Homo sapiens: one gene and its partners. The protein of the gene in region 4 purifies or fractionates together with the protein of the main gene of each other region. This does not show direct contact. Each region holds a gene or a part of one and is shown on either strand. Other genes may lie near its edges.

The links.
Region 1: the proteins of ASF1A (region 4) and TONSL purify together in Homo sapiens (affinity purification with mass spectrometry; 5 studies listed by BioGRID and IntAct, with this or other methods). This does not show direct contact.
Region 2: the proteins of ASF1A (region 4) and RBBP7 purify together in Homo sapiens (affinity purification with mass spectrometry; 6 studies listed by BioGRID and IntAct, with this or other methods). This does not show direct contact.
Region 3: the proteins of ASF1A (region 4) and IPO4 purify together in Homo sapiens (affinity purification with mass spectrometry; 5 studies listed by BioGRID and IntAct, with this or other methods). This does not show direct contact.

What each region holds. Positions count from the first base shown.
Region 1 is NC_000008.11:144,441,281-144,448,697, reverse strand, and holds the start of TONSL (tonsoku-like protein), read left to right. Parts: upstream 1-4,257; 5' UTR 4,258-4,283; coding exon 4,284-4,308; intron 4,309-4,422; coding exon 4,423-4,518; intron 4,519-4,673; coding exon 4,674-4,816; intron 4,817-5,376; coding exon 5,377-5,560; intron 5,561-5,891; coding exon 5,892-6,021; intron 6,022-6,285; coding exon 6,286-6,457; intron 6,458-6,546; coding exon 6,547-6,661; intron 6,662-7,417. UniProt on the Homo sapiens protein: Component of the MMS22L-TONSL complex, a complex that promotes homologous recombination-mediated repair of double-strand breaks (DSBs) at stalled or collapsed replication forks.
Region 2 is NC_000023.11:16,867,235-16,874,680, reverse strand, and holds the start of RBBP7 (histone-binding protein RBBP7), read left to right. Parts: upstream 1-4,318; 5' UTR 4,319-4,627; coding exon 4,628-4,643; intron 4,644-4,817; exon of another isoform or gene 4,818-5,039; coding exon of another isoform or gene 5,040-5,187; intron 5,188-5,460; coding exon 5,461-5,605; intron 5,606-7,446. UniProt on the Homo sapiens protein: Core histone-binding subunit that may target chromatin remodeling factors, histone acetyltransferases and histone deacetylases to their histone substrates in a manner that is regulated by nucleosomal DNA.
Region 3 is NC_000014.9:24,185,685-24,193,514, forward strand, and holds the start of IPO4 (importin-4), read right to left. Parts: upstream 3,133-7,830; 5' UTR 3,104-3,132; coding exon 3,035-3,103; intron 2,955-3,034; coding exon 2,868-2,954; intron 2,740-2,867; coding exon 2,660-2,739; intron 2,574-2,659; coding exon 2,532-2,573; intron 2,113-2,531; coding exon 1,983-2,112; intron 1,896-1,982; coding exon 1,716-1,895; intron 1,467-1,715; coding exon 1,401-1,466; intron 1,296-1,400; coding exon 1,194-1,295; intron 1,108-1,193; coding exon 1,024-1,107; intron 768-1,023; coding exon 603-767; intron 499-602; coding exon 445-498; intron 287-444; coding exon 177-286; intron 1-176. Other genes in the region: TM9SF1 (transmembrane 9 superfamily member 1 isoform a precursor), read right to left, coding at 3,731-4,124, 4,696-4,969, 6,487-6,672, 6,964-7,585. UniProt on the Homo sapiens protein: Nuclear transport receptor that mediates nuclear import of proteins, such as histones, RPS3A, TNP2 and VDR. Serves as receptor for nuclear localization signals (NLS) in cargo substrates.
Region 4 is NC_000006.12:118,904,071-118,909,775, forward strand, and holds the end of ASF1A (histone chaperone ASF1A), read left to right. Parts: intron 1-1,581; coding exon 1,582-1,758; intron 1,759-3,331; coding exon 3,332-3,544; 3' UTR 3,545-5,101; downstream 5,102-5,705. UniProt on the Homo sapiens protein: Histone chaperone that facilitates histone deposition and histone exchange and removal during nucleosome assembly and disassembly.

The DNA of each region.
Region 1 (7,417 bases), on a different chromosome or scaffold from region 4:
CCAGCACATCCTTGGGAGCAGCTGCCTCTGACTCTGGCACCACCAGGGTGAACTTGGGCACCTCAGGGCTGCGCTTTGGGGCTGTCCTCCCTCATGCTCCACCCACAGGCGCAGAGGGTTGGGCTATGGCTCTACATCTCTTTGGAAGCCCGACGCCCTCTAGCGTAGTGTTTCTGGGTCCAAGGTGATGGTGTGGGGCGCACGGGTGGGGCGGGCTTGCCCTGTCACCTGTTTGGTTGTGTGTGTGAGAGACTGACTCAACGGAGGGACAGGCCCCAGCATGTCTCTGGGGTGGGGAAGGTGGGAGGCTTGTTCTTCATGGGGACAGCCAGGCTGGGACGCCAGGGGCCTGGAGGCAGACGTCTCTGCAGGTTGGGGGGCCACGTGGAGAAAGGAGACCCGGGGCTGGTTGAGCTCCTGCAGCCCCACCTCCGCAGTCCCGGGGCAACCAGCCCTGTGGGAGTTCAGGATGGGAGGGGCTGGCCTGAGGGCAAGGGCAGTGTCCACACAAGGCCCTTCCAGATGTGGGATGTGGGTGCCTCAAGTCTGCAAGTGCGGCCCAGCGTACTCAGCAGGCATCTGCCCTGTGACCATGACATGCAGCAGCTGAGCCTTATGGCCTGGGGGAGCCAGGCACCTGGGAGGACCACGGTGGGTCCTCGGCCACCGGGAACTGGAGCACGGGCTTCCCGTGGCGTTGCCAACGTGGGCCACACATGACAGGACCGCCAAACACACGGCTTGTGTCCAAGACCCTGAGACATCTTGACGTCCCGACCTGCTCCTTTGTCTTCTCTGAGGATGGGGGCGTGGGGGTCCACACTCCGCAGATGTGGGGGGCATAGCCTAAGCCAGGCCCCACCCTTCTCCCTCCCTTGTCTCATCCCCACCCCCTGGTGAGCACCACATCCCTCATTTATAAAAATAGGCCAGGCACGGTGGGTCACGCCTATAATCCCAGCACTTTGGGAGGCCGAGGCGGGCGGATCACCTGAGGTTAGGAGTTTGAGACCAGCCTGACCAACATGGTGAAACCCCATCTCTACTAAAAATACAAAAATTAGCTGGGCGTGGTGGCGCGCGCCTGTAATCCCAGCTACTCAGGAGGCTGAGGCAGGAGAATCGCTTGAACCCAGGAGGCAGAGGTTTCAGTGAGCTGAGATTGTGCCACTGCACTGCAGCCTGGGTGACAAAGCGAGATTCCGTCTCAAAAAAATAATAATTTTTTAAAGAGCAGAGCAAGAAGTGTTTTTACCATTGTTGGAAATGACTTATGTGTCACTTTTGTGGTCTGCGTTCTCTTTGGATATTTTCTGTATGTAACAACTGTAGTTTAAAAAAATATTCCAACCCATGTTTTGTCTGTGTTTCCTTACCAGAAGACAGACACACAGCTGGGCCTTCTGGGCTCTGCTGGCCTCCCCTGCTGCCCTCAGCCTGTGGCAATCTGCACCAGGCCTGCAGCCCTGCACAGCACTGCCTGACGTGTGTACCTTGTCTGGTTACTGGGGAAACAGGCACAGAGAAATTGGGTTGTCAGCCGGGCATGGTGGCTCACGCCTGTGATCCCAGCACTTTGGGAGGCTGAGGCGGGTGGATGACCTGAGGTTGGGAGTTCGAGACCAGCCTAACCAACATGGTGAAACCCTGTCTCTACAAAAATACAAAAATTAGCTGGGCGTGGTGGTGGGCATCTGTAATCCCAGCTACTCAAGAGGCTGAGGCAGGAGAATCACTTGAACCTGAGAGAAGGCGGTTGCAGTGAGCCAGAATCACGCCATTGTGCCCCAGCCTGGGCAACAAGAACAAAATTCTGTCTCGGAAAAAAAAAAAAAAAAAAGAGAGAAATTGGGTTGTCTCTGAAGGGGAATTCGGCTTCCAGGAGCTGGGCTGTCCTGTGGACCCTGGGGCTGAAGGGGATACTTAATCGTTGTCCAGGTAGCTCAGGGAGCCCCTCTGGTGTCCAAGCCACCCTGTCTTCAGCTGTTCATCTGAGTCCTCTGATTCTGAATCTCACTCCCCACTCCCTCCCTCAAGCCTCACTGTGCCCCTCACACACCTCACCAGCTTGCCCTCCAAGTAGTTGCCTTGGCTCAGAGCCATGCTTTGGATGGGCAAGGGGTTGGCAGTGCAGACCTCCACAACCTGTCCTCACACCCAGGCCTGCCTGGATTTCCTGCCTCCTGCAGCTTGTGACTGCACAGGTGTGCAGGCTTGGCCTGGTCCCACCCCTGCAGCCTTGGAGGCACCGAGGCCCAAATCTGCCCAGTCCAGGGGCCACGCCAGGAGGCCAGCGCTCTGCCGTCAGCCTGAGGAGGGCTCCAGCAGCCTTTACTGGACCCAGGGACCTGTCAGTGCATCACACCACTCTCTCCCCAACAGATCTCTCTGGCTGAGTTTTGCCCAACGACTTGCTGTAATTACGATGGAAATTAACTCATCTATCTTCCACTCCTGAGGCTCCTCAGTTGGACTCTGTGCACCCAGCCTCCTCTGGGGCCTCTGGGAAACCAGCCACTGCACCTGAGTGCAGTGCTGGGTGTGCTGTGTAGCCGGGAGTCAGATACCCAAGGCATGGCAGGTGTTTGGTCCTCAAGGTAATGGGGGATAGCAAGGGTATTTTAGAGGCCTGGGTGCCCCATGTCACAGGATTCTAGACATAATTTTGCAGTTGTTTTCTCTCTTTCTTCCTTTTTTTTTTTTTTTTTGAGACAAGAGTCTCGCTCTGTTGCCCAGGCTGGAGTGCAGTGGCGCCATCTCCGCTCACTGCAAGCTCTGCCTCCCGGGTTTACGCCATTCTCCTGCCTCAGCCTCCCCAGTAGCTGGGACTACAGACACCCGCCACCACGCCCGGCTAATTTTTTGTATTTTTAGTAGAGATGGGGTTTCACCGTGTTAGCCAGGATGGTCTCGATCCACTGACCCCATGATCTGCCTGCCTCAGCCTCCCAAAGTGCTGGGATTACAGGGGTGAGCCATTGCGCCCGGCCCTCTCTTTCTTCCTTTCTTTCTTTTCCTCCCTCCCTCCCTTTCTTTTTTTTAAATAAAGATGGGGTATCGGGCTGGGCATGGTGGCTTACACCTGTAATACCGGCACTTTGGGAGGCCGAGGTGGGCGGATCACAAGGTCAGGAGTTTGAAACCAGCCTGGCCAGCATGGTGAAACCCCGTCTCTACTAAAATGCAAAAATTAGCCGGGCATGCTGGCACGCGCCTGTAGTCCCAGCTACTTGGAAGGCTGAGGCAGGAAAATCGCTTGAACTCGGGAGGCGGAGGTTGTGGTGAGCCGAGATCACACCATTGCACGCCAGCCTGGGTGACAGAACGAGACTCCGTCTCACACACACACACACACGAAAGATGGGGCCTCACTATGTTGCCCAGGCTGGTCTCGTACTGCTAGGCTCAAGCGATCCTCCTGACCGGGCCTCCCATAGCGCTCGGATTACAGTGCGGGCCACTGTGCCCGGGCTACTTCTGCAGCTGAAGCACAGGTTCACTGACTCTTCCGAGAATACAGCTGGCATACACATTGCTGAAACAATACTTGTTCACTATGGAAAGCACATTCCCCTCCCAAAACAGTCCTTGGGGCCGAGTCCCCAAATGTGACCCAGCTGCGTTCTGCGGAGGAGGAGCGCGCCTGACACCTTATTACGTCCCCACAGCCAAATGCTCGTGAATTTATCGTCAGTCTATCTGGACACTACGTTCGTTTTTAATAGTTGCGCCTGTGAGCAGGCTGTGTGTGTGAATTTCGGGAGGAATTGGGGCGGCGGCACAGCTCGTCCACCATGAGTAGCGCGGGCGGCACGGGGGCTGCAGCCCAGAAGACCCCACCCAGGGCGCGCTGCGACCCCGGACGGGCTGGCTCCGGGCCCCCGGCCTCCCGCGTCCCCGCCGCCTACGAGGAGGAACGGGGTCCCCACCAGGCACTCCCCGGGCCGGGCAGAGGGCTCCACGCGCGGGCCAACCCGGCGTCCGGGAAGACGGCCCCTAGGGTGGGACGCCCCAGTTGTCGCCGCCACCCCGCCCCAGCTCCTCCCGCACGAGAACTCCGAGGATGCCGCGGGCGGGCCGACCGTACTTCCCGGAATGCCCCGCGCCCGCCGCCGCCGTCGAGGGGCGGGGCCTGCGTGTCGGCGGCGAGGGGCGGGGCCTGCGTGTCGGCGGCGAGGGGCGGGGCCTGCGTGTCGGCGGCGAGGGGCGGGGCCTGCGTGTCGGCGGCGAGGGGCGGGGCCGCGGCGCAGCGCGGGAAGTCCGGATCCCGCGGCGATCCGAGCATGAGCCTGGAGCGCGAGCTTCGCCGTAAGTTCCTCGGGGACCCCTTCCTCCGGGGGCGCGGAGGCTGGGGAGGGCTTGGGACTCGGCCCCGGCCCCGGACCCCGCCGCGGAGGCCCAGCCCTCCTCTTCCTCCCACAGAGCTGAGCAAGGCGAAAGCCAAGGCGCAGAGGGCCGGGCAGCGGCGCGAAGAGGCCGCGCTGTGCCACCAGCTGGGGGAGCTCCTGGCCGGCCATGGTGAGCGCCGGGACCAGGAGGCGGGAGGCAGGGCCGGGGCCCGGGCCCGGGCCGGGATCGGGGGCCGGGGGGCGACGGGCTCTTCCGGCAGACGCCGCCCCAGGGCCGCCCTCGCACCCGCGACGCCTGCCAGGCCGTGCTGTGCCCCCGCCTAGGCCGCTACGCCGAGGCTCTGGAGCAGCACTGGCAGGAGCTGCAGCTTCGGGAGCGCGCTGACGACCCTCTGGGCTGTGCCGTGGCCCACCGCAAGATCGGAGAGCGCCTGGCCGAGATGGAGGACTACCCGGCTGCCTTGCAGGTGCGGGCGCCCTCACTGGCCTCGTCCAGCCCGGTCGGCCTCTGGAGCCCTTTTCTGAGGAGGGAGGCCTGGTCTTCGCCGTCAGGAGCCTCGGGCTGGAGGGGACACCTGACCTGACGCAGCCTTGCCTTCACCGCCCCGGGCCAGTCCTCCGGTGGGGACCCCACAGCCTTTCCTGGGACTGGGGCAGGAGTAGGTTTCCTGGCACCAGAAACCATTACTGAACGTTATTTTAGCTGTGTTTGTGTTGGGGGAGGTCAGGCCCCATCCCAAAAGCTCTCCCTGACCCTGGCTGCTGGAGGCAGGACTGCAACCCCCCCGCCAACTCCCAGCTGCCCCTCCCCACGTGACAGCGTTGGCTGCATACAGCGTGAAGCCACTGTCACCACAGAGAGCCCTTGGCATGCAGAGGAGGGGCACGTGTCTGGCCTTGGCCTGCTCTGTGGGGGTTAGGGGGAGCAGGCTCTTTCCTTAGCAAGAACAGGGTCTCTGGGAATCTGGCGGTGCCGGTTTGCTTGAGGCGGAGTCGGCTCACAGCAGTGACTTCCTTCCACACTCAGCACCAGCACCAGTACCTGGAGCTGGCACATTCCCTGCGCAACCACACGGAGCTGCAGAGGGCCTGGGCCACCATCGGCCGCACCCACCTGGACATCTATGACCACTGCCAGTCGAGGGATGCTTTGCTGCAGGCACAGGCTGCCTTTGAGAAGAGCTTGGCTATTGTGGATGAGGAGCTGGAGGGTGGGCAGACCCCTCCGCGTTTTCTGCCTCCTGAACTTCGGGCCGAAGAGGCTGCAGCCCAGCACCCCCGCAGCCTCCTTGGGCAATCCCGTCTTCTGGAGCCCTCCCTTTGCAAGGCTCTTGTGTGAGGGGTGCATGCCCCGCTCAACCTTTCCCCTGGAGATCGTCAGCTCTTTATCCACTCTGTGCTCCATCTGCCGCAGGACACTTGCACCCACCTCGGGAGGAGGGAGGGGGTAGGAGAGGCGCTGCACAGGCCCCAAATGGGGCCCAAAGCTGGAAACCCCATGTGGGGAGGAAGTGGCTGAGTGTTTGGGGGGGTATCTTCCAGGGACACTGGCCCAGGGAGAGCTGAATGAGATGAGGACCCGCCTCTATCTCAACCTGGGCCTCACCTTTGAGAGCCTGCAGCAGACAGCCCTGTGCAACGATTACTTCAGGAAGAGCATCTTCCTTGCGGAGTAAGGCCCTGCCCCGCCCCAGGAGGGAGTGGAGTCCCTTGTTCCTGGAGGAAGTAGTTAGGGGAGTATTTTTCCCAGAGTCCTCCTGAGAGAGCAGTCTGGCTGGGCCTCATCCCCCCACCTCTCACACCTGTGCCACACACTGGGAGAAGGCCAGGCATGGTTAGGGCCCTGAGACCACAGCATGGCAGGGCTGGGGCCCGTGTGGCATCAGCAGCTGTCATGGACACTCCTGGGTGCTCAGTGGTCGTCACCCCTCTGCAGGCAGAACCACCTTTACGAGGACCTATTCCGCGCCCGCTACAACCTGGGCACCATCCACTGGCGCGCGGGCCAGCACTCCCAGGCTATGCGCTGCTTGGAGGGTGCCCGGGAGTGTGCGCACACCATGAGGAAGCGGTTCATGGAGAGCGAGTGCTGCGTGGTTATTGCACAGGTACCCGCTGTGCGTGGCTCCGAGCTCAGGCTCTCGTAGATTCGGGCCTTGGGGATTCTGCAAAACCTTTGCTGTCCTTTGCTCTCCAGGTCCTCCAAGACCTGGGAGACTTTTTGGCTGCCAAGCGAGCCCTGAAGAAGGCCTACAGGCTGGGCTCCCAGAAGCCTGTGCAGAGGGCAGCCATCTGTCAGAACCTCCAGCATGGTGAGCCTGGGGGTGCGAATGGGGCCCTGGGAGGTGTGTGCAGGGGTGAGCCTGGGGGCGGGGTGGAGTCCCGCCAGGTGTGTACAGGGCTCTCTCCCTCACAGAGGAGGCCTGAGCACCTGTCCTTGGAGGCAGCAGCTTCAGCAAGAGGGGCAGGTACCCCTACTTCCTGACAGGAGAAGACCCCCTTTTTTCTCTGAGCTCAACACAGTGTGTCAGGGGCAATGAAAGGGCGGCCAGGAGACCAGCTGGGCTTTTATTTCGCAGCCACCATCTTCATTGGCAAACTGGAGACAGTAGTTGTACCCCTAGCCTCCCAGGGTGGGAGAGGAGATGGCACGCGTGGTCCAGGAGTGCTGATGGCAGAGACCACCATTGGAGGTTGGCAGCCGTCAGCCCTTACTTTGAGCCAGGCACCATCCATGTTGTGTTGTTTTTTTTTCTTGAGACGGAGTCTCGCTCTGTCACCCAGGCTGGAGTGCAGTGGCATGATCTCGGCTCACTGCAAGCTTCGCTTCCCGGGTTCATGCCATTCTCCTGCCTCAGCCTCCCGAGTAGCTGGGACTACAGGTGCCCGCCACCACACCCGGCTGATTTTTTGTATTTTTAGTAGAGACGAGGTTTCACCATGTTAGCCAGGATGGTCTCGATCTCCTGACCTCATGATCTGCCCGCCTCGGCCTCCCAAAGTCCTAGGATTACAGGCGTGAGCCACTGTACCTGGCCCCGAGTTTTTAAGTGTGTTAGTTCTTGTGA
Region 2 (7,446 bases), on a different chromosome or scaffold from region 4:
TGTTATACATTTCAAAATTGCTGAGTGTATATTTTAAGAGTTTTCACTACAAAAAATGTTAAGTACGAGAGGTGACGAATTTGTTAATCAGCTTGATTTAATCATCTCACAATGTAAATATAAATCAAAACATCACATTGTACCCCATAAATTTATACGATTGTGATGTCCATTAAAAATAAAATTAAAAAAAGAAGGTTTACATGCAAAGCTTTCTCATTGCTGCTTATGGATTGGGACAAGCCTAAGAAGAGTTTCTTGTTCATTATTTTTCGTTTGACAAATATTTATTTACCACGCCCCAGTGATTCTAAGTCTAAGCCTCAGTGATTCTGGTCTAGGTCATTTCCTTTATTCACTGTCCCCAATGCAGAGCTCAAGTGGCTTAGCCTCAATAGCTAGCAACAGGGTAGGTTGGTCTTTTAGAAATCCAGAGGGACACCCCACAAAGGTTACATATTAACACATTTGTAAGTATAAAACAGTTACTTCACTTTTCCTAATAAAATATCAGAATAGTCAATGCAAACAAAGTACGAGTTCAAAGAACAGTGTATTTTCTATTAAAAGAATTTTCCTTCAACTCCCTCTCACACAATTGCATTAAACAATATTTTAAAAGAAATTTCTTAGAATTTTATCACATTAAGACAACTCTTCATTTGTATTACTCCTCTGACATTTTTTTTTCTAAAATGCATGCGTTTTTTCTATTTATATGAGCACTATGCATCCAATGGAAAAAATTTTAAAATAGGGCAATATATGAAGAATAAAACAACAATATACTAGTATCAAGAGACAACAGCTATTAATATGTTAGCGTATTTTCTTCTGCTCCTAATAATGACTGGATGAAAACAATTTGGCCAGAAACAAAATTGGTATTCCTTATGCTCCTCTTTTGCTTGTATAATTTTCAGATCTTTCTGTAACAAGCTTTGTTTTTGTAATAAGAAAAACAAACAATAAAGGAGAGTATAAAAGAGCAGGGTCTCTGTATGCCTTGTTCATCCAGCTAGCTGCAGTTTCCAGAACACTGCTTGGCTCACAGTAGGTACTTCAAAAATTTTTTTGAATGGCTAAAACTTTTTTGCCCCCAACCTAGTGAACCACAGCTGCTAATGAACATGGAATCACTCTGCAGGTATGTCTGGGTACTATGTCTCTGATTCCTTTTAGTAAATAGTTTGTTCTATCCATAGGATCACTTTCGCTGTCTTAATATAAGACTGATTAAATTCAAATTCCAACTCCAACACTCACTAGCTATGTCACCTTGGCAAGAAACCTCACCACTTTGGCTCAGCTTCCTCATGTGGTGAGCACCGGTCCAGGTGCTGAGGGCACAACAAAACAAGAATCCTACCCTCTAATTTACATTCTAGTGTGCAAGAAAAAGCCTGTGGACAAACATCTGTCAGATGGCGATAAGCGATAAGCGCTGTGAAAAAACAGAAAATAGAGTAAAGGGGATAGGAGGTGATTACCTGTGGGGGTGGATGAGGGCGTGTTGCTATTTTATAAAGGGTAGTCGGCAACAGCTAAAGGTTTAAAAACTAGGCCCAGCACGGTGGCTCATGCCTGTAATCCCAGCACTTTGAGAGGCCAAGGTGGGCAGATCCTTGAACTCAAGAGTTCGAGACCAGCCTCGGCAACACGGTGTCTCTACTAAAAACAAAACAAAACAAAATCTGGGAATGGTGGCCTGTGTCTGTGGTCCCAGCTACTTGGGAGGCTGAGGTGTGAGGTTTGCCCGAGCCCAGGAGGTTGAGGCTGCAGTGAGCTGTGATCGTGCCACTGCACTCCAGCCTGGGTGACAGAATGAGAGCCTCTCTCAAAAAAAAAAAAAAAGAAAAGAAAAGAAAAAAAGAAAGAAATAGAAATTTAAAAATCATAGTGTAGTGTTTTTCAAACTTCAAGTTGTGACTAAGCGCAATCATGAAGTCCATTTAGAATTTGCATTTTCGAAAAAATGAAATAAAATTCATCCCTTCCTTGTGTGTGTGCACCTGTTTGTGCCTTACTCTATTAGCTGAGCACAGGAGAGACAAAAAGAACAACCCCAGAAAAGTGCCAGAAAAGATTAGGACCAGAGCTAAGAGGCTGGGGAGAAAGGCAAAACAAACCCAACAGTTAAGCAATCCAAGAGAGAAAACATATCACTTTTTTTAATGCAAAAAAAGTAGTATGGAAAAAAGGCCAAAAAATTAAATAGAATTGACAGATTCAATTTAACAACAACAAAAATGCAAAACTAATGAAATATGCTGTACATGACACTTTCGGATTAAATGCATGATAGTGTGTGAATATTCTCAGAAATTCCCAAAATATTTGTTCCATATTTCCTTCTCTGACCCTCACTGAGGTAAACAGTATCAAGATTTTAAAGCCAAGTCGTCTGGGAAGATTTCTTTTCTTTCAGTCCTTTAAACATTTCTTTTAATAGGTTTTGGAAATCATGTCTACTTGTCAGAAATGAGTACACTGTATTAAAGGGATACAAATCATCTCCCAAGCCGCCTCTTGCTTTGCACACGAGGTTCTCTTTGAAGCAGAGCCATAAGGTACAATTATTCTAGAACAAGGTGGGCAAACTACAGTCCTCCGACTAAATCTAACCCACCACATGTTTTTGTATGACCCTCGAGCTGAGAATGGTTTTTCCGTTTTCAAGTGATAGAAAAAAAAAATCAAAAGATTTTGTGACCCGTGAAAACGATTTTAGTGTCTGTAGTTTTATCGGAACGCAGCCAAATGCATCCATATTTTCCATGGCTGCTTTGCGCTGCAAAGCGACAGAGTCGAGCAGTTGCCCCCAAAGCCTAAAATATTTACTATCTCGGTCCTTTTAGAAAAAGTCTTGCCAACTAATGTCCTAGAATATGAGGGCTGTATTGCTTAAACACCCTTCCAACTCTCTTCCCTCTCTAGCCACCCCCTCAGCCTTAGGCACTAACAAGATTCCTTGACCCAGAATGGGGGGAGGGCGTTATAATAATGAACGGTATTGTATCGGAAACAACACAGTAAATATCTACAGAAGGGAATGTGACTGGTTCTGCCACTGACTAACGTCTGGGTTTGCGTCCCGGTCAGAAAAGTGGGCATGACAGCGGCATCTGCAAGATAGCATCTGAGCATGAAGGCACTTGGAAAGGTATCAAGGCAGCAAATGTTCCGGGGGTGCTTTTGCAAGAGGAGCCTCTCCCGGAGCTGGACGTACACTTCGGTTCCCTTTGCACGCAGGCACCTTGGTCGCCTCCCCCAACTCCGTCCCCTCTGCTCCTGGCCCTCATTTTCTTCTATTTCCCTTTTGGCCTTGCAGCCAGCTTTCTCCTCCCCCGACACACTCCTCAGGGGCTATGAAGTTCCTGAGCAGAGCAGGGCTCAGGTAAGCAGGCCCAGGGTAGTTCAGCCCTGCTCTCTCCAGCTCCGCCAGCTTGGGGTGGGGTCGCGCTGGGACCCCTGCAGGTGACAAAAATGACTCAGCAGGGGCCGGGGCTGGGATGAGAAAGGAACGCCAGTGCAGGGACAAAATCCCCTGAAGCGCGAAGAGGCCGCAAACCATCATCTTAAGGACCCAAACATCGAACAAATTAAAATGTAACAGTGTAAATCGGCTTCGGCCCGCCGGCGGCCTGTGCCGCCACAGGCTGCACATTTAGCCTAACAGGGCGGCCCGGCGGCTTTTGCAGGCAGAAAACGCCCGCGGCCTCTCCAAAAGCTCTCCTCCGTCTGAGACCAGCCCCACCTCGGCCCGACCGGGCCCCAGGAAAGGCCAGTCGGCTGGAGGAGAACATTTCAGGGGTGCAGAGAATTGCATGTCCGTGATTATCAGGGAGACTTTGAAGGCACAGTAATCTCTCGAGAACAGGAACCATTTTCCCCTCTTGCTCTGAGATTTTGCTTGGCTAAGCGGCGGCAGCCTCCCTGCCCCCCTCTCACCCCCACCACCGCTGCCGCTACAAGCAACCACGCCCCGCGGGCCCCAAGGCTCGCCGCCCCGGGGCTCGCGGCCCCCACTCAGCCGGCCAGCCGCGCCTCCATCAGCCCCGCCCTCGCGCGCCCCCATCCGCCCCGCCCCCTCGGGCCCTCATCCGCCCCGCCCCCGCGCGCCCCATCCGCCTCCGCGGCCGGCCCTGGGAGCGCCGGGCGAGCCCTCGCGCCTGCGCATCGCCAACTTCCTGCCGCGGCACGCTCCGCCCACCCCCAGAAGCCCGCCTCCGAACGCCGCGTGAAACCCGCCCGCCGCGCGTCATTGGTCTCGGCGCCGGAGCCGTTGGCTCCCAGACCCGCCTCTCCGCCTCCTCTCACTTTTCCCAGGGCGGATGCGCCTGCGCTCAGCTGCCTGGGCGGGCTGGGAGGCGCGGGTTGAAAAGTCTCGTTCCAAGTTTGGAGAGAGAGAGAAGAGCGCCTCAGACCTCGGTACCCGCGAGCGGGGAGGAGGCAGGAAAGAAGGACGCGGCGTCTGGGGAGCACCCAGGCAGCAAGACGGGGCCCGGGCTTTCGACAGTGGGGAGTGTGACGCGCTTGGGAAAGGCAGGAGCGCCAGCGGTCGGGCTGCTCTTGGCTAACGAGAGGAGTCCGAGGCGGCGGCGAGGGGCGAACGACCCGACGCAAGATGGCGAGTAAAGAGAGTAAGAGGCCCTGCGGGGCGGCGCGCGCCGGGGCCGCGGGGGGCGGCGGGCGCGCGAGGCCGCGGCACGCGCCGGCGAAAGGCGCGAATTGGCGTGCGGAGCAGGGGGCGGGGCCGGGCGCGAGACTGGGCGCGCGCCTCGAGGGGCCTGCGCGGGACGGGACCGCCGCGCCGAGGGCTCCGAGCACTTCCGGAGCCGGGCGCGGGGCCGAGGGCTGGGCCCCCCTCTTCCCTTCCCTCCTCCAGCGGCTGCGCTCCCTCCGGCGCCCTCGGCCCCGGGGCGGAGGCGGCCCCCGCCGCTGGGAAGCGAGCGCCGCGGCTCTTTCTACGCGCGCGCGCGCGTTGACCGCCTCGGGGTCGCGGCCCTTGTCCGGGGGTTGCTGGGGTCCTCAGGCCTATGGCTGCCGAGGCGGGCGTCGTGGGAGCTGGGGCCTCCCCTGATGGGGATTGGAGAGACCAGGCCTGTGGGCTTCTGCTACACGTGCATTTGTCTTCCCGACTGGGTCGCGCAGCCCCTGTACGTACAGGTCGTCATCTTAGAACAGGTGCGAACAGCTGTAACAGGGTAAACAATTTCCATGTCCGTGTAATTGACTACCCAACATGGTGTACGCAGGGGGTATTGATCTCAATGGAAAAAATAGGCTTCCTGATTGTTAGTATTTTCTCCACCTTCTGGAAGAGCAGTTAGTTGTCCGTGTCCAAATTAGAGGTAAAAGGAAAGAGTACATGAGGTGTGGCCATCTTGAGGTGACCTCCAATTTCTGACTTTGATCTATCTCAGCCACTTAATCGTGTGGGCTTTCTCCAAATTTCAGTGTTTGAAGATACTGTGGAGGAGCGTGTCATCAATGAAGAATATAAAATCTGGAAGAAGAATACACCGTTTCTATATGACCTGGTTATGACCCATGCTCTTCAGTGGCCCAGTCTTACCGTTCAGTGGCTTCCTGAAGTGACTAAGTAAGGGTTTCTGGCAACTTTTATTTTGTTTAAATTTAACTGTCGTTCTGAATTTCCTAGTTTTGGCGTTTTATGCATAGAACATAAGTATGTAATCAGCCCTTGCATGAGGTGGCAGGTGGTTTTTATTTTCAAAACTTACGTGATTTGTGGGATGATTTCTGGTGTATAGTGTGGTGGTAAAAGGGGAGAAAGAAGCTGTTGTGAGATTAATCGTGTTTGGAGGAAGCACTGAATATATTTGACATTTCCTGGGCTTGAATGTAGAGCAGCATCTTTCTGGGCCCAAACTAATGCGTTTCTTTAAAACTTTACTGAAAAATAGAATATTTACGGAAAAGTTCACACATCTTAAGTGTTGTATGGCTTGATAAATTTTTACAAAGTGAACACACGTAACAGTCATCCAAGATAAATACATTTTAATTGGTAAAGGGAAAAAGACCTTGTCAACAATTGACCAAAGAAAAGATGTTATCGGCTTATGGAATACACTTTGAGATTGCTGTTAGTCTTCATAAGAGTATTCTTTTCTGTTACATCTGCAGTTTCTCTGGTAATAATTGCTGGCATTTATTGAGCACTCAGAACAGGGCCTGGCACATCTGAAGAATCTACGTCCTGTTGTTTGTTGTAATCCTCATAATAGTACTATGCTGTAGGTACTTTTCATCATCCTTGTTTTACTGATAAGGAAACTGGGAGTGAGAGTTTAAGTGCCATCCCAAGATCACACAGCTGGTCCCTGCATTAGACTGCCTTTCTCATTCACTTGCACCTTTTCTAGTAGGAACTTGACCATGTACTTTTAAAGTGTATTAAATATGGGGTCAGGCACAGTGGTTTATACTCCTGTAATCCTAGTGCTTTGGAAGGTTAGCTTGAGCTCAGGAGTTCAAGGCTGCAGTGAGCCATGATTGCGCCACTGCATTCTAGCTTAGCCAACAGAGTGAGACCGTGTCTCTCAAAGAAACAAAAAACAAGCATCTTAAATTTGGGTGTTGCGGACATATAATTTAAAGAGGATTAAATGAAACTCTAACCTAAAAAGAGGATTTTGCAACAAGTTATAAAAATAATAAGCTAATTTTGGCTGGGTGCGGTGGCTCACGCCTGTAATCGTAGCACTTCGGGAGGCCGAGGCAGGCGGATTGCCTGAGCTCAGGAGTTCAAAACCAGCCCAGGCAACAAGGTGAAATCCCATCTCTACTAAAATACCAAAAAAAAAAAAAAACCGGGCGTGGCAGCGTGTACCTGTAGTCCTAGCTACAGGCTACAGGGAGGCAGAGGCAGGAGAATTGCTTGAACCTGGGAGGCGGAGGTTGCAGTGAGCCAACATCGCACCACTGCACTCCAGCCTGGGCGAGAGCGAGACTCCATCTCTTAAAAATAAAAATAATTATTATAATAATAATCTAATGTATATAAAACTGCTCTTACAGTGGCCGGGTTCTCCATATGCAAACATTGATTTCTATACAGATAGGAATTTCCACTAGGCTTCCCAAAAATCTAAATATAAATGTACAGATGTGGGAAGAGTAGAGAAGAACTAAATGATGGAGACTTGGAAGCATTGACGTTTACAGCCACAACAGATTGAAAAATAGATTAAGCATCATATACTCGGGTATTCAAGTTCTGGTTTGGAGCATCGTGTGCATTTGCCTCTTTGGTCTGTTAAGCAGATTTAAAATGTATTAACTAAATTTACCTTTTGGGGGATCTTTTTGACCCACTGTAACATAATAGAAAACAGCAGGGGCTTTAAACTTAGAGACCTGGGTTAAAATCATGCCCCTACTTCTTAGCTTCATGAACTGGGGCCGTGTTGTCTGGGC
Region 3 (7,830 bases), on a different chromosome or scaffold from region 4:
GCAGCAGCCCCTGGTCCCTATAGCTGGTAAGCCATGTCATTTATCTTCCAAGCCAGGACACTTTTGATAATGGGGGGAAACGCTGTTGATAAATAAGCTTGAACAACAAGCGTAAACCAGGACAGCCATGGTCCTCCCTGTGGGCAACCCTCACCCTGGGACAGGGGAATACATACCTCTGCCTGATGTGGTCGCCAGCTCCGTCAGACAGCACGGCCAGCACCAGGAGTCCAGCTTTGCGCTGGTATGGGCTCTCGCTCCGCAAAGCCTCTTCCAACATGGGCATCTAGGGAAGCATGTGGCACGCTTCTGAAACCCCAGCAAGAGCCTGCCCATTCCTGTGGTAATAGGCCTTCACACCTCCCAGGGTCTAAACGTCGTTGGCCTCAGGGGGACTAGGCACACTTGGAGGTAGGGACACCAGAAGGACAGAGCCACACTTACCAGCTGGGGACAGAGCTTCTCGGGGGGCAGGTGTAGTGCCAGCATGTCCACAACCTGAGATGGGATGGGGAGACTTACTTTGCTTGACTCCATCTCTGCCTCCCCAACGTCCCACAGCCACCTAACACCTTCCCCCTCTGTCCTGCCCCACATCTCACTTGTACAGCGAAATGCTTGGGAGTCTCCCCCATCAGCTCAATCTCCAACTCTTCCTCTTCTGAATCCTGGTCCTCGGGATCCAACTGGCCTGGTGGGGGCTCAGCAGCCACAATGGGGAAAAGGGTGTGCAGCAAGGGTGGCAGGAGACGATTCTTCAGTAAGGCCTTGACAGAGAAGGTGGAACAGTGTCCCTAAGAATCTGCTCCCAGGATGGGCTCACATTAAAAATTCCAGTCTTCCAGGCCATAAGGGGTCTGACAGAAAATTCCCAACCTCCCAGGCAGGAGCTGGGGTGAGGCCAGGCCAAGGCTTGAACCCCCACAGTACTTTAGATACCCTGAGATGGACCGAAAGCCCCAGGAGTGAGACTAAGGGTGGAGATGGGGGTGGGGTGATGTGTGTCAATGGGCACTCACTTACCTTGCTCTTGACTTTGACCAAGAAAGTGAGGCAGCAGAGAATACGTATGCGTATCGCATTGCCCAGGGCCACATTTCTAGCTACCTGTCCACAGAATAATAAAAATCAGCGACAGGGAAGGAGAGTCCCAGCAGAGCATGTAGCAGGGGCCATGTCCACTCCAGGCTCACCTCCAGGCAGAATGTGAGGACTTCAGAGAGGTAGGGGGTGATGACCGGCACCTCTGACTCCAACAGTTCATCCAAAGCCTCAAGGGCCTCACAGGCCTTTGCCTGACAGACAAACAAGGCACAAGGTTACCATGCTCTTCTTCAGTGGGCCAAACTGGACACTTCTGCACTCTCCTTCCAACAGAGCTCCTGCCCACCTGTCCTCACCTCATCTATGGGGATCAGAGTCTGCATGGCCATGATCAGCTTGGGCACCAACATCCGAGCGAGAGGCTGAGGGACACATCACAGAGAGCATGATGCAGCCCAATCTCACACCCCAGCAGCTGGCAGCTTCCTCACAGCCTGAATTGCGAGGAGGAGCCCAGGCATAACAGCCAGGCCCACCTACAGCATCCCCTCTCAATTGTCAGGAAGGGCCACAGGCAGGTAAAGAATCCAAAGCAGCTTTGTAACTTTTACGGGTGAGGACATGAAGGCATGAGGAAAGGGAGTCAAAGATAACGAGGGCCCACATCTCACCACATCTTCAGTGCTGAGGTAGGGAGCCATGGTGGTCAGAGTGCGCAGGGAGTAGAAGAGCAGCCCAGGAGAGCCCACCTCACCAAGAGTCTCATTCAGAAGCCGAAGAAGCTCCCGGTGGTGGGGTTGGAAGGCCTCGGGCCGGGAGGTCACCACCACACTTAGCAGCAAAAGCCCCATCTGTCCAAGAATAGAGGATGGGAGAGCAAGCTTACAAGGTCTATCCAGCCTCTCAGGCCCTCCCTCCTGCCAACCATGTGATGGTACCTCTCTCTCTGGGCTGTGGGGGCTGTGGGTACTGTGCTGAAGCAGCTGCAAAAGCTGTGGCCAGGCCTCCAAGCCTTCCTTTCGAAAAATGGTGGCTGAGAGCTGGGCCAGGCTGAGGCTCACACAGTGCCTGCAAACAGGAGAGATCTCCTCCAATCACCCTTCAATACCTTCCTCTGCACACAGTGGCCAGGCTCAATGGGGCAGCCAGGACAGAAACTTTCAGGAGGTGTGGGCACAGGGTCTTTGCCAAGTTGGGACACATGAGACAGCAGCTCAGAGGGAGCCCAACAGCACTGTGGGCATGTAATCTGGTAAGTTCAGTCTAACTTAGCCTGAATTTCAGTCTTATTCTTCTGACTTGGGTTTGGCAGATCATCATCACCCTTCCTCAAGAACTTTAGTCTTCAAAACAGCCTTAAAATCCTCACTCCACCTTGCGTCTAGAACTGAAGTCCCTGCCCCACAAGTCCCAGCCTGGAGCCGAAAAGGAAGGCAGAAACCTAGACAAAGTCGTCAAGATCCCGAGAGAAGTGGGTAGGTACTTACTCTGTTTCTCTCTGCAGGGCCGTCAGGATCAGGGACTTGAGGCTGGAACACAGGTGGCAGGTGTTTGGTACCCAGCCTGCCCAAGAAAAGTCTCCGCCTGGCCCCGCCCCACCCCAGGCCCAGCCCACCTCTCCCGTTGCTCCGCCGCCAGCCGTCGCCAGCGGGTGTTCAGTCGTCTGCGGGTCAGCACGGCCGCAAACTGGCGGATCTAGGACGAGGAAGCAAGCACGTGGGGGTCCGGGCAGGAAGGTGCTGAGCGGACCGCAGTGGGCGAATACTGGGGCTTGACCGGTGGCGTACAGTGGGAAGCTCGGAGGGGAGAGTCAGGGGTCTCACCTGGGGGTCGGCCGCCGAGGCTAGCAGGTCGCAGAGAGCCGGCAAAGCGGCGGGGGCCCGAAGAACGATCTGGAGCTGTTCCGTGGCCTGGGGGGAAGCTAGGGGTGAGAGTTGGGCCTTTCCCGCAACCTCCCGCTCGCCCTGGCCCGGTTACGCCTGCTCCGTACCCGACGGATGCGCTCGGTGTCCGGTAGCAGCAGCTCCCGTAGGAGCTGCTCTAGCCCGGCTGACTCCATGGCAGCAACTGAGCCGCCGCTACTGGGCCGAAAAGGGGAGGGGGAGGGACAGCACGTGGAGGTTCTGACACCCACTTCCGGAGGAAAGGGCGTTGCTGCACGCCCCGCGGGTTGCCAAGGTGATTCAATTCGCTTCCCACAAAGAGGTCCGGCTCCTCCACTTCCGTTAGGCTGAGCACCGGCTGAATCGCGGAAACCCGACTCTGGCAATGTAGGTTCCCCACGCCGGGAGTTCCCAAGCTGGGTTGGAGAACTCGAGCTTCGGGCATTCAGTGGCCAGCTCGGCTTTATAAAGGACCGTGCCCTTAACAGCAGGGCTCGAGTTCCTATATCCAGACCAAAACCTCCAACTGCATGAGCCTTTTTCTTAATAAATTTTATTTTGGTAATTGTAAAAAGAAAAATCAGGACCAAAACTAAAGGCAACTTAAAAAGTTCAAATATATAATCCTTATGTGATAGAGATTTATAATTTCCAGGCCCTCTCTGGGGAAGGAATGCCCAAAGGGCAAAAGGGAAGGCAACAATGCCATCACACAATTCAGTCAATCAGAAGAGAAGCTGGTAGGAGAGTTCAACAGGGCATGAAGAAAGGGAGAGAACAGCAATAGTTCTGCCATACAGAACTCAGTCCATCTTGAGGTTAACATAGATATACCGGATGAACTTTAGGGAAGAAAAAAAGGAGATGGTGCCCAGCATGAGGAAGAAGACATAACCAGTGAGTAAGGAGTAGCCGAAGAACTCTACTGTCTGTACTGCCCCAGACATGTTGGAGCGCCGGGCATAATAGAAAACTGAGTAGAGGAAGATGAAGAGGCCGGTGGAGCCAACACTCAGCACAGATCGCCACCACCAGCGGTAATCCTCCCCAGACAACTGGAAGTAGGTGAGTGCAATGGAGATGCAAGCCCCCACACTCAGCAGGATGGCGAAGACAAAGAAGAGGATGCCGTACAAAGTGTACTGCTCCCGACCCCATACTGTGGCAAAGATGTAGTACAGCTCCACAGAGATGGCACTGTGAAGAAAAGAGATGATACACAGCATTAAAGGGCTGTGCACCATCAGCACAGTGGCTGGGCTGAAATCCAGCCCCCACCCTCTCCCATGTTGCTGGGTCATTGTGAAAAGTGAGTTCACTCCACTCTCTGCCCCAGATCTCCTGGCTTCATGGGGATTTTTTGCCTATGATTAGCCGCTCTCACTTCAAGAATATCTTCCCTAATAGATTGAGGGCAGGGATCTTGTCCATTTTATTCCACTTTATTCTTTGCCTGGCACAAAGAGGTATTCAACAAAGTAAATGGGTCATCAAATGGGCTTTAAACCCCACATGATGTCCATAGGCATTAAAGTCAGAAACCAGGAAGGTGAAGGGGGAAATGTCTCCGGAGAGCTTTATAAGTGAGACACTCTCATATCATTCAAGCTCAGTCCTGCTTGGGGATAGGAGGAACCATTTAATGATCTCTGAATGGTACCACTGAACCAGGGATCAACGGGTTGGGTTAGGGTACTGGATGAGTAGGGACAGGAAAAATTGAGGTCAGGAACCTGACAGTAATAGCCATGGAATAAAGGGAGGATACCTGAAAGGCAGGAAGCCTCCAACAGTCATGTGGATGACAGTAGACTTGTACCAGGGCTGGGGTGGAATCTCCCGGGCGATGTTCTTGGTGCGACAGGGTGCATCAAAGGGGCTGGCGTTGTTCTTCCCAAAGATGCCTCCAATGACAGTGAGGGGAAAGCCCACCAGCAGCCAAACCGTCAGAAGCAGCAGGATGGTTGTGGCTGGCAGAGCCTGTGTCGAACCATTGGCCCAATGCACTGAGTTCACCACACTCCACGTCAGGAAGAAAGGCACTGCAGGGATGGGCCCCCGGAGGGAGGGTCAACACTAGGAGCTACATCTCTAAGGGCACCCACTTACATCCAGGACCAAAAGGGGAGGGGGCTGAAGCAGCCTGCCACTCTAACGGCAGACTCATGCTCCTGGATGTCCCTGCAGAGTCGACTGCCTTCACCTCCACCCTTTCAGGTCCCATTATTCTTTGTTCTGTGTTTTTTTTTTTTTTTTTTTTTTTTTTTTGAGACAGAGTCTCGCTCTGTCGCCCAGGCTGGAGTGCAGTGGCGCGATCTCTGCTCACTGCAAGCTCCGCCTCCCAGGTTCATGCCATTCTCCTGCCTCAGCCTCCCGAGTGAGTAGCTAGGACTACAGGCGCCCGCCACCACGCCCGGCTAATTTTTTGTATTTTTAGTAGAGATGGGGTTTCACTGTGTTAGCCAGGATGGTCTCGATCTCCTGACCTGGTGATCTGCCTGCCTCAGCCTCCCAAAGTGCTGGGATTACAGGCATGAGCCACCACACCCGGACTCTTTGCTCTTTATCTTACCAACACCATCCCCCAACCCGGTGTCATTAAGGATCCAGGTAGCTACTACATAATCTGAGAGTAGCACAAATCCATCTGCCTCCAGGGGCCTGTCTTGCCTTGGAGTTGGTAATTCCTAGCATGAGACATTCCTTTGGATTAAGGCCCTGTTTTCAGAAAGCCTTGGTTCAAATATAAATGTGATGGGATAAAAATCAGACACACAGAATTGGGAACAAGAAGGGTTCAGAACAGAGACTACTACTGCCTTTGAAAGGGCAATCTGGTTTGAAAGCCTAGAGTGGGCCCACCTTCAAAATAAAAATTCAAGGGTGTTATTTTAGTGTAATGGGTGAGAATACAAGTCAGACTGCTGAAACCTAGTTCACTACTTTTTAGGAGTGTAATCTCAGACAAGTTACTTAAGCAGCCTTTAGTTCAGTTTCCTCATCTGTGGAATGGAAATATTACCTACTTCACACAGTTATTGCTGAGTGCTTTCCACACTGCCTAGGACATTTTGAGGGCTTAGTAATTTTAAACTATTCAAAAGAAATGCATTCTTGTTTTTTTTTGGTTTTCTTCTTTCTTTTACAATATTCCTTCCCTTCAAGCCTCATCCTGACTCTATCCCAAGTTCTATGATGTGTTCTTTTTTTTTTTTTGAGACAGTCTCACTCTGTCAGCCCAGCTAGAGTGCAGTGGTGCAATCATGGCTCACTGTAGCCTCAACCTCCCTGGCTCCCCAGGCTCAAGCAATCCTCCTGGGTCAGCCTCCCAAGTAGCTGGGATTACAGATGTGAACCACCATGCCCGGCTAATTTTTTGTTATAGAGAGAGGGTCTCACTATGTTGTCTAGGCTTGTCTCAAACTTTTGGGCTCAAGTGATCCTCCGGCCTCGGTCTCCCAAAGTGCTAGGATTACAGGTGTGAGCCACTGTGACCAGCCACAATGTGTTCTTCATTCCTAAGTCCAGAAAGGCCCACCAGGGAAAGGAAAGTCCTCACCAGAGAAGAGACTGGTGGTGAGAATGATGTTCCACACCCAACGCTCGCCTCCAATCTGCCGGTAGAAGTGGCTGGACACGTAGCCAGAGATGCAGCAGGTCAGGGCATACAACAAGATGGCTGCTGAGTTAATGGCCCCATGACGGTGCACATTGAACATGCCCAGCAGTGCCATGACAATAATGCCTGCAGGACGGTAGCGGAAAGCCCAAGTTAGGCCTCACCTGTGTCTCTTCTAGCAATTTCAGAGGAATCAGCCCCCCTTCTCCCAGACCCAGGGCCTCCAGCAAAACAATCTCCCCCAGTTTTGCTATCCAGAAAATCTACAATAGAATACGTGCATTCTTGCTAGAGCCACCCTATCCCTTAGGTCTGCCCCTCTGGATAGAAGAGAAGATCCACAGACCTTTTCTGAACAAACTCCCTACCTAGTTCTATCCCATGAGATAAATCCCCAATTCATTTTTATCACCTCACCAGTGCCAAGGGCCAGGAACTGGGCACCCACGCCAAGCACAGCACAGAGCAGACCACGGTATGGGGGGAAGCGGAAGACATCTGTATGGATAATTTTCCAGCCATTGTCACCCTGGTCAAAGTCATCACCAGAACCTGCAGAGGTGGTCTCCTCATCTAAGTTGTACCGAGCCAGGTCATTCCGAAGCACACGCATTAGAATGACAGCCACAAAACCCACCAGTAAAAACACAAGCACCATGGAGTTGATGATGGACAACCAATGGATTTCCAGTGTTCGAGGAAAGAAACCACCATCGTCACCACGGCGCCTGTCACTCCGACGCTCCACTGAAGTCTCAGACCAGCGCACGCTATAAGTGTGGGTAAGGCCTAGGAACTCGTCAGGTCGTAACCCATCCAAGCTGTGGGGCTTGACGTCCCGCACTGAAACATTGGCAAATATAATTCGGTCTCCATGGAATTCTAGGTGGAAGTCCAAATGGGTCCAGAGTCCTATCTTGTGGCTGTGTGGCAGGAAACCACTCTCCTCCATGTAGCCCACAAAGCCCCGGATTGGCAAGTCATCTACCACAAATTCAAAGTAGTACAGTTCTTCAATGGCCTGGCGCAGCTGCTCCACCTATAAAGAGCAAGTCAGGAGTTGGTCACACAAGATCTCCCCAGGCGCAGAGTTACAGCAAAGTTTCTCACCTTCAGCACTACTGATATTTTGGGGTGGATAATTCTTTTTTTTCGAGATGGAGTCTTGCTCTGTCACCCAGGCTGGAGTGCAGTGGTGCGATCTCGGCTTACTGCAACTTCTGCCTCCTGGGTTCAAGCAATTCTCCTGCCTCAGCCTCCCGAGTAGCTGGGATTACAGGCGCC
Region 4 (5,705 bases):
ATAATCTGAGGTTTTAAAACCAAAGAGAAAGAACATATCTGTGTTAATGCTGGTAGCAGTGCAAATGATAGGCTAGAGCTGGGGAGATCAGTTAGAAAATTCTAAGCAATATTCCAGATAGGAGATGACATGAATTCAGCCTCCAGAAATGAAAAAAATGTTGAGACTGACTAGATGTAGGAGATAAGGGAGTGAAGCTGACTGAGGTTTTTAGCCTAGGACACTAGGTAGCGATTTTATGCCTTTTTGTATCATCTACCTGTGTTAGGCATACAGTAAACAACAGTCTTCAATTTTCACAAGCTAAGGCATTGGCTAAAGTGCTCATCTAGGCCCAGGAATATTCCTTGGTGCCCTGGCAACAGGTAAGCTAATTTGCTGGGACTTGATCCATTTACCACCCAGAATGGCTGCCTCAGATGCCTCAGCCATCACTGCCTGTGTTCCCCAGTCTGGCTCCTTCCATCCGGTCGTCTCATTACTACCTGCACCCTACCACGGATGGGGCCCTGCCCTTCGCTCATGCTCTTAGTCTAGTCTAACTCAGTTTACTTTCTGCATTCCTCAAGGTTCACCTTACAATAGCTTGATTTAAAACAAGGTCTTTGACATCTGCCTAAAGCAATCCTTACCTTCACTGGTTTCCACATTATGTGTGGTTTAAAGAGCATACTATATTGTAGAGTCTAGCAAAGTAACTATTCATAATAGAGGATTATTAATATTTTTTGAAAATCTGCTATGTAGCTATTTCCATCTCATTTTCAGTTTTGTTTTGTTTTGTTTGAGACGGAGTCTCACTCTGTCGCCAGGCTGGAGTGCAGTAGTGCGATCTCAGCTCACTGCAACTTCCACCTCCTCGGTTCAAGTGATTCTCCTGCCTCAGCCTCCCAAGTAGCTGGGACTACAGGCACCCGCCACCATGCCCAGCTAATTTTTGTGTTTTTAATAGAGATGGGGTTTCATCATGTTGGCCAGGATGGTCTCAATCTCTTGACCTCATGATCCACCCACCTTGGCCTCCCAAAGTGCTGGGATTACAAGTGTAAGCAACCACACCCAACCTCATTTTCAGTTTTATACTAATTTACTATTAGAATACCTGTGGGGGTGGTTGAGTGGGTATGAGAATATAAGTATCCTGGGTTGAAGAGGGAAACTGGTATAATAAACATTTGTGGCCAACAGTCTATGAGGAGATCATTTAATACTTACTAATTTAGGTCTGAAAATTATGACTGAAAAGGTTAAAATCAATTGCTGACTATAAAGGTTTTATAATGAATAGTGTATAATCCTTTCATGAACCACCATGCAGTGTAGCCAGAATTTCTTCCTTTTACAAGTGTAGTCATGCTTTCAAGTATCAAGGGTCCTTACATATATTGTGGCAAAACATGAACTGTCTTTTCCAGCTTATTATAAGTCAGTCAGAAATGAGCATTTTCCTTCCCAGTATGATTTCCAAGTTTTTCTTGTTGCATCCTCAACTGATGGTTCTAGGTAACTGAAACTCCAGTCTTGCCTGCCACTAACAGCCTTTTGTGTGTGTGTGTTTCTTTTCTTTTTAATTTATTCTAGGCTGATGCACCTAATCCAGGACTCATTCCAGATGCAGATGCAGTAGGCGTAACTGTTGTGCTAATTACTTGTACCTATCGAGGACAAGAATTTATTAGAGTTGGCTATTATGTAAATAATGAATATACTGAGACAGAATTAAGGGAAAATCCACCAGTAAAACCAGACTTTTCTAAGGTAATGTTCTTACTATTCCTTTTTAACTACTTTTACTATGCAATTTTTAAAGCAGTTGCTATTGCAATTTCATAGTATACTATTAAAATGGCTTTGAGATAAAATAAATATGAGGTCCTTATGCCAACTGGGCAAACTAATTATTGTTCCATTACCATGGATGACTTCAAACCCTACCTTCAGATGAGTCATTAGTAATTAATGTAGGCAGACACCTTGAGCATTTCTGGTTTAGAAAAATGAAAGTACCTCTTTTTTTTCTGAGATGGTTTCCTGCTCTGTTGCTCAGGCTGGAGCGCAGTGGCATGATCTCGGCTCACTGCAACCTCTGCCTCCTAGGTTCAAGCGATTCTCCTGTCTCAGCCTCCCAAGTAGCTGGGACTACAGGTGTATACCAACACGCCCAGATAATTTTTGTATTTTTAGTAGAGGTGGAGTTTCACCATGTTGGCCAGGGTAGTCTCCAACTCCTGACCTCAAGTGATCTGCCTACCTTGACCTCCCAAAGTGCTGGGATTACAGGTGTGAGCCACCACGCCCAGAGAAAGTACTTCTTGTAAGACAGGCCTTTGTTTATGGCTTTCTTTATAGCATTTCCCATATTGATTATTCCCATCATGATTCTGTTCATTTCAACCTTTAGGACAAACAAATGCATTTTTGTTGTACTAATTATTCAATGATGATATTTTTGTGTGTAACTCTTCCCAAAATTATGAAAGTTTTATGTTTGTTTTTCCTATGAATACGGTTATCTCAAAACACCTATACGCTTTATCTGCTATTCTTAGAAGTTAAACTAACAGTCTTAAATATTTCTGGTACTGAAAACAGCTTAAATTCTGAGTGAGAAGCTGAAATCTAGGATTCAGCATTCTTAAAGATACTTAGTATTTTCTGATTTTTCACTGGGAACTATAACAGTTTGGTAACTGGTGATTTTGTGAGAGTGCAGAGTAAATGAAGTTGAACCATGCAAGAAAAATTACATGACAATAGAATAGAATGTTCTCATGTTCTTTCTGATAATAAGGCCGGACTATTTTTCACCCTTGTTGTACCTTCCATTGATCCAATTTGTTATCCCTGAAGCACCTTATATAGCACAAAAGAAACAGGACTGTTTCTAAGAATGAGCCATCTTTAAAAGGTGTAGGAAACCATTAATAATAAGTTGTATTTGACAATTTTTCATTTTCCTTTGAAAACATACCAATCTAAACAACATAGTAGCTTGTTAAATAAAGCATCTTCTGAAGCATTCATTTTCAAAAATGAGGAGATTCTTTCTTTTAGAAAACAGAAGTATAGGAGTTAAATAGTTAAAAAGCCAGATGAATCCCCTCAGATTCTCCGTATCTTGTTTCTGTTAATCTAAAATAACTTCTTTGCTACAGCCCTAGTCGTTACATCTTATTAGTTATATTTAAGGTACTTAACTTGAATTATACCTTTGTATATGAACTTAGCCCTTTAGGAGTACTAACATGAACCATTTTATTAAGCTTCTATTTGTATATGGTGATTTAACTTTCTTAGTGTTTACCATTTGTATGTTTCCTTTTTCCTCTAGCTTCAAAGGAATATTTTGGCATCTAATCCCAGGGTCACAAGATTCCACATTAATTGGGAAGATAACACAGAAAAACTGGAAGATGCAGAGAGCAGTAATCCAAATCTACAGTCACTTCTTTCAACAGATGCATTACCTTCAGCATCAAAGGGATGGTCCACATCAGAAAACTCACTAAATGTCATGTTAGAATCCCACATGGACTGCATGTGACCACCTACCATCCCTTTAGTACAAATTAAGCTATTAAAAATACACAGAACTATTTCCCTGAAATTCCGTAAGTACATAGTCAAAACACAATGTGAAGAATTTGTTTAAAAACATCCTGTAGAAAGTTTATAAGAAAACCAGTATTTGAACAAATTGTGGAATATAAATACAACTATTTTTAAGTAATTTTTTTCTCTAATGTGTTATTTTATTTGTTCTGAAACTAATCTGATTAAAGCATATATATTATTTTCTTCTCCTTTATATGTAATGAAAGCACTTATAAAGAAACAGGAATCATTAGACCAGGTTGTAAAGATGTCTTGGCCTCCCAGACAGTCTTTGGACCACTATTTTACTGGCCTTTGAAAGAACAAAGTTTACTTCAACTAAAATGTTTCTTCCTGTGAAGACATATGGTATCATTTTAATTTAAGGGGCAGATTTCCATTCTTTTTTGGCATGTCCTTAAAAAGAGGATTTGAAATCAACTATATGCTACCAAGAACTTTAGGATCCAATTTTCCAAGCCACCGTGAAGCCTCTTATGGCTACTATTATAGTTCATGAGATGTTGGACAGCATTTGGTTTGTTTGGTAAGAGAAGAACAAATATGGCTAATTGTTAATAAGGTCCCCTGGCTATGGTTTTTGTTCTTATAACAGAGTTTAGAATATCAGAGCATTTCTTGAATCATACATCATTATTGTCCAGTGAATTCAAGACCAAATACAATATCGGGAGAAAATACAAACTCCCTGTGTTTAAGAATAGGGGATTACAATGGCTCAAATTGGTTCATTTGATTTCTAAAAATACCATGACCTTTAAAAATTCTTTTAATAGATCATGTTATTGGCAGTATTTATATAAAAACCATGGATTTAGAAAGGTATATTTAGCTTTATTATAATAGATACGTTACTATTTTGGAAATATATATATTTTCACACCTGTAGTACTCTTCCCCATTTCCTCTGACACTCATGCAGAATGAGATCAGGCATATTTGTGGTTGACATACTCTAGATAGCTTTTCCAACAAATCTTTGAAAAGCAATCTTGGAAAGGAATTCATTAACTAAATGGGGTAAAAGGTTTCTTTTTCTTTGAGAGTTAAGTCCTTCCTCAAAAAATTTTCTTATGCTCCATAAAATTGAGGTAGAATATTTTCATTATTCTTGCAGCTAAGCAAGACAGCCATATGATGCAGGTTATGCAGTGCCTTCATATCTAAAACTTTTATACTGCACTTTTTAAAGCTTTTATGTTGAGGAAAGGAAAAGGGCATTTGTCTAAACATGGATTCTGAGTTGTATATATTTCCTATCATTCTAAAAAAGTGAATTTGTGAAGCAAAGTTTTGCCAGATGTTAAACTTTGAATTTAATATACCAGATTATTAAAATATTGTCCATTAACTAGTTCATAGATTTTAAAAGTAAAATACTTCTGACTGTTAAAACTATATAAAGAAAATCTCATTTGTCTAATTGCAATTAAAAGAAAAATGTTAAAATATTAAAATGAAAATAAAAGCATTACTTTCCAACAAAGAGCTCAGTGGTTAATATAATAGGAACAACATATGTGCTTATTAGAAATAAAGCATATACAGCCAAATCACCAAATAAAGCCATTTACTGCTGAGTTTTTATTCTGACTAATTATAACAATCTATTTGTAGTGACATCAAAGGGTTAGGTTTTTGTATCAAGTTGTAAATGGACAACCAATTTTCACTTAAGCTTGGGACATGCGAACCATTACCTTTTGTTATCTTAAATTTTATCACTCTAAGAATTTTTTTAATGACTGAAAATAGATTTAGACTTCAAACATTAGAAACGTAAGAAACTGTAGCACATAAGTTTTTTTTCCACCCGGTCTAGCGTCATTTGCCAATACTGTATCTGAAGAACTATTTTCCACCCTTTTGCTCATAGTAAATAGCTGTGTCCTAAGAATATAAACATGAACCAATGACTTATGCCACTAAGATGGAGGCATTAAGGGTATTATTTGGGCTGAGAAAACATTCCAGAGGTCTGAAGAAGTATGCATGCATTTATTTGCCCATTCATAACCTTATACAACTTTAGGCTCCCATATAACTATACCCTCTAATTTTAGGATTTGGGGTTTCTAGCTTTCCCAAGA